Regions from separate parts of the Homo sapiens genome. Here region 1 is linked to region 2. The links come from fine-mapping of genetic effects on gene expression. Tissue or cell type: nasal epithelium. Region 2 holds a variant in brackets; the other region holds the start of a gene. All regions are shown on one strand. Distances are between the middles of the regions.

Region 1 (2,605 bases), 270 kb before region 2:
GATGGAATCCGCATTGAACACAAGAGGAAATTGCTAGGGAAGGATGCGTGTGAGGAAAGGAAATCCTCAGGCTGATTTATTGTTCAGCGCTGAGTGTAAACAGTGTGCTATCCTTGTCACAGCCAAACGAAAAAGGACGCAATCACTATCCTGAACAGATCATTCTTTTAAAAATAATATTTTGGCCTGCTTATAAAGCATGGTTCGTAATAAAAAATTTGGGCTACAGAAATATAATACAATTAAATTATCCAAACTCCCATCTTTTTGTTTGTTTGTTTGTTTGTTTTTTGAGACAGAGTCTGGCTCTGTCGTCCAGGCTGGAGTGCAGTGGCTGGATCTCAGCTCACCGCAACCTCCGCCTCATGGGTTCAAGCGATTCTCCTACCTCAGCCTCCCGAGCAGCTGGGACTACAGGTGCGTGCCACCACGCCCGGCCAATTTTTTGTATTTTTAGTAGAGACGGGTTTTCACCGTGTTAGCCAGGATGGTCTCGATCTCCTGACCTCGTGATCCGCCCGCCTCGGCCTCCCAAAGTGCTGGGATTACAGGCGTGAGCCACCGCGCCCGGCCTATTTTCTAATTTTAAGTGAATGCATCTCAAAAGGGTGACGAAGGACCACATTCCTATCGAACAGCAATAATTCACTGTGGCAATATCTTGCCACAAATAATTTAAACATTAATTGTGGTTTTGAGGGGCAGTGTGCAGTGGGAGTAAAAGGGGTAGGGTTTAGAGTCTCCAAAAGATTTACTTAAGAAACACGAATGCACTGCTTGTGCACTGCGCAAAAGTTCTGGGGTCAAGTTCCAACTTTCACTAAGGATCCCAGAACAGCCCGGCAGGAGCTGCCCAGGGCTAACGCGCTTTGCTCTCAAACCCGGCCGCCAGTCGCCGACGCATGCGCAGTCTAGCACCGTGGCACAGGCCTTTCTCAAGCAGGTTTTTGTGGGGTCAGCAAAAGGGCCAGAACAGCAACGGCAAACAGTTCCGAGCCTGACAGTGCAGGGGCAAACCAGCTCCAAGTGAAAATCACCTCGCGAGGAAATAGGCTCAGGGATCGGGGCGGTTTCCGCAGGCGTCTCCACACACGCACTCTCACTCACTTTGAGGGTGCCAAAACACCACTAGGGGCAACTAGGAGGAATAGGCTGAGGAATCAGCTATAGAGAATGGAGGGGATAGAGCTGCAAGGGGCGAGGGGGCGACGATCTCTAAAACTTTCAGCGCCGTGCTCTACTGATGCTCTAGGCACTTTTTTCATTGCTCTGGGGAGTCTGGGTGCCCCAATTAATCCGTCGCTCCTTTGAGCATTTGTTGTTTAGGGGGTCCTGGGGGACCCCATCGTATTACAGTATTCAGCCACACTCCCCGCAAAGCCGGGAAGCCGCCCCGAGAGAAGACCCCAGGACGCCGGGGGCTGCGTGAGCCCCGCAAGGCTGCAGGCGGGGGCGCGGGATCCCCTTTCTGGCCGCCGCCCCCCTCCGCCGGCCCCTCCCCCGCGCCCCGCCCTCGGCCACAGACCCCAGCCCCGGCCGCCGGCGCGCTCCCACCCGCGCGTCTGGGGACTTGCGGACCGCAGCGAGACCGGCCGGCGTGCTGGGCATGCTCAGTGGCGGGCCGGGCGCTGGAGTCGGAAGCCTGTGCGCGGCAGCCGCCGCCGAGCCGGCCGGGGCGCACGGAGAGCGCGCGGGACTCGCTGCAGCGGCGGCCGGGTCGCGGCGCACCCGGGCCGGGACCGGAGCCGAGCCTAGCGCGGCGCCCGCGACCCGTCAGCCGCGGCTCCTGCTCCCTCGATCCCGCGCGGGGAAAGGGCCGGCGGCTGTTGGCGTCGGCGGGGCGCGGAGGAACCGCGGCGGCGGCGGCGGCGGCCGCATCCTTGCCGCCCGCCCCGGCCCAGCCGCGTCCCGGAGCCGTCGGGCATGGAGCCGTGGAAGCAGTGCGCGCAGTGGCTCATCCATTGCAAGGTGCTGCCCACCAACCACCGGGTGACCTGGGACTCGGCTCAGGTGTTCGACCTTGCGCAGACCCTCCGCGATGGAGTCCTGCTCTGCCAGCTGCTTAACAACCTCCGGGCGCACTCCATCAACCTGAAGGAGATCAACCTGAGGCCGCAGATGTCCCAGGTGAGGAGGCCGGCACGGGCGCCCCGCCTCCAGCCGGCAGCTCCCATTAATCATGCGGCTAATTTCTTTGTGTAAATGCAAACGTCTAGGTGCGCTGAGCTTGCCCTGCTTCCCAGCCTTCTGCTTTGGGACCACTTCGGCACCACTTTGGCGTTTCCTACCTTGGCTTGAAATGGTTTAGCTCCTCAAGCTGAATGCGAAAGCTTTGCGTCCGGAGATGGTGTGAGGATTTCGTAAAGGCTTTCTGTGAGGCGGGAAAGAAATAAGTTGTCTTAGGGTGCCCTTCACCTACTCTGCGTGTGTGTGGCGCGACAAAGGGAATTTGATCAAGCTCTTCTATAATAACGAAGGGGAGGGACGAAACGAGGTGATGGGGTAATTTGCCTTTAGTCTCTTCTTTTGCTTTGCGTCTTGTACTCATGTTTTCCTAAAAGAGGAACCATGACATACATGAGGACTCGAGGAAGTGAAGGGCGTT
Region 2 (2,500 bases):
GCAAGGAAAGGCTCATGGCCTAAGCATCGATTGTTAGGCCTTTGAGAGGAGACACCTGGGTTAGATTAATAAGTAGCAAGAAAATGAAGCAATTCACAGAATGCTTGATGACAAAAATGCCTCCCTTTCTGAAAAAATCTACTGCCTGATCCAGTCGATCCAATTGTTAGAGTTCTCACTTGGCTCTTACTATTTCCTCTGCCTGAAACATGCTCCCTTTTCTCCGAACAGTTCCAAGGACCACCCTTTCATTGCTTTCTGTCCAAACTCTTTGCCAATCATTAACCGTACCTTGACCATCCAATGGTAGCCTGAATTAAATTGTTCTCTAATTATTTCTATGTAGGCTTTATGCATTTGCCAAGGTTAGGCTGTTCTGTGGTAACTAACAAACCCCCAGGTCCCATTGGCTTTAAGATATAAAAGTTTATTTCTCACACATGCACTGTTTACTGTGAGTTCAGTGGCCCTTCAGAGTAGCTCCCTTCTAATCAGGGAACCCAGATCAGTTTGATCTTGTGACTTTGCCAGCTTGACACATGGGTTCTAGGGTTGCTGACTTACAGACCCATAGCCTGGAAGTAAGCAGTGCCATTTTTCATCAAGTCCATTGGCTGAAACTAGTCACATGGCTTCAACCTAACTGCAAGGGAAGCTGGGCAATGTAATGAAACACATGGACTATTTGGTGTCTGTCTCTACCCCTGTTAGATTATATGCTCCTTTGCTGTTCGGAATATGTTTCTCATCTTTTGTGTCCACCCCTTAGTACCAAGTTCAGAGGAGTGGCACTTAATATCATGTTGTTGTTGCTTTTTCCCATAATAGGACTATTTCAACCAGAATATAATTTTTAATGATGTTATAGGATGTGGCTAAATATTATTAAGCATTTGAAGTATCTCTTAACACTTCTTTTTGTTCAAGTTAGCCCTTTTTGGATGTTGTCTTCCTTGGGTTGGAAAACCTTCTATATTTCATGCTCTATATCCCTTATATTAATCTAGTCTTCATTCACCCTGGAAATGATAATTACTTGACAAAAATGCAGTGCATTTCTGAATGAAGCACCTCATTTGTATTAATATGTGATTATGACAGATTATTAACTCAAGTGCATTTGAAGTATGAAAAAAAGATGTGTTAAGTTTATTTTGTTAATAAGACAAACTATGCAACTTGGAAACAAATTTGAATGTTGGATGATTAGTTTATGTCTTAACATTTGAGGATGTGCATGGATATAAAGGGCAGGCAGTTCCACTCTCCTTTTCCCTGAACTTGAGTTGACTTCTTCACATTCACTATGGCAACCTCAATGATCAACACATACAGGAGCTCTGAAGTGCATGCCAAAACTTTCCAACGTTAATAATGAATAGGTATGAACTCCACTATGCAAGCTTCTCTGAACGAGT[C/A]ACTGCAAAGCTAATGTAATTTTAGGGTGTCGTTTCCTTCTCACAGTACACCACCGCGAAGGTCTAATCCCAGACAGCAATCTTTATGGACATTTGCTTTTCCCCCCACTACACTACATGACTAAGCCCCTTTGGTCTCCACTTCTTACTCTGACATTGACCAGTATAGCTTGCTTTGCATCCTCTCAGTTTAAACAAAGTAACATTGGAAGGGAAATACTGTTGGAGCAAACGACTTTGGTATAATGCATCTTTTCCTTTAGTGAGAATGCAAGCCTCAGCTGCCCTAATATTTAACTGAAGCAGATCCCCATTTGCTTATCTGTTTAATTGCACTTTTATCTAGGCCAGCTGCTGCTCCTGCTGCTGCTATAGCCACTCCTAATTGGAAGGACGTTGCTGTGGTATCCTAGTGGTTTAAAACTGAGAGACTGCTACCTAGAACCTGCACCCACATTGGTATCTGAACCGGGCTCCTTTATAAATCATATTTTACATTTTAACATAAAAGATAAGCTTTCAGGATACAATTTTATTTCAGCCTTCTACTGCTAGGCATTTTATCACAGTACTTTTACGTGAGCTGAAGATTGACCATTGATTTCATAACCAAAAATGACTTTAGTTCTGCATAATATTACTTAAAACTCATAAAGACAATTTTATACTTGAGTAGTTATTATTCCTTCCATCTATTTGGGTCAGTTTAATGGTACATTAATAATTATTAATGTGAATTGGAATCTATTATATGGTTGTATTCCTATTAGAGCCCCTGAAAAGACTTGAAATCAAAGCCTCTTTCTAAGTATTATTTATAGTTTATGGTTTGCTTTATTTTCTTTTTAAAACATTGCTGTATATCTGAGTAGTGAACATAGCATTTGTGAAAGTGAACTTTCTCCAAAATTTGATCAGTCCAAGCATTTTTTAGTTGTAATGTCTCACAGAAATAGCACTTTAGTCACGATGATAGGGTACCTTCAAAAACTGTACTGGTAATTACTTTTCTGTGGCCCCTGTTGAGATAGGCAGTCTTACTGGACATTGATGTGTTTAGTCTGAATAGAACTTCAGATAAG

Evidence for each region. PIP is the estimated chance that this variant, and not a neighbour inherited with it, causes the effect.
Region 1: it holds the start of VAV3, and the variant in region 2 is fine-mapped to the expression of VAV3 in nasal epithelium (TOPMed, PIP above 0.99).

What each region holds. Positions count from the first base shown.
Region 1 is chr1:107,964,188-107,966,792 of GRCh38, reverse strand. VAV3 (vav guanine nucleotide exchange factor 3) reads left to right here and starts at 1,613. Exons shown (of 27, transcript NM_006113.5): 1 at 1,613-2,127. The coding sequence starts at 1,924. VAV3-AS1 (VAV3 antisense RNA 1) reads right to left here and starts at 2,350. Exons shown (of 3, transcript NR_046653.1): 1 at 2,289-2,350. RefSeq lists enhancers at 827-896, 832-1,126, 2,473-2,602.
Region 2 is chr1:107,692,016-107,694,515 of GRCh38, reverse strand. All of the region lies in intron 17 of VAV3 (vav guanine nucleotide exchange factor 3), which reads left to right. Among named protein-coding and RNA genes, the nearest start is that of MIR7852, 200 kb to the left of the region's middle. The variant C/A (reference allele first, on the strand shown) is at 1,419.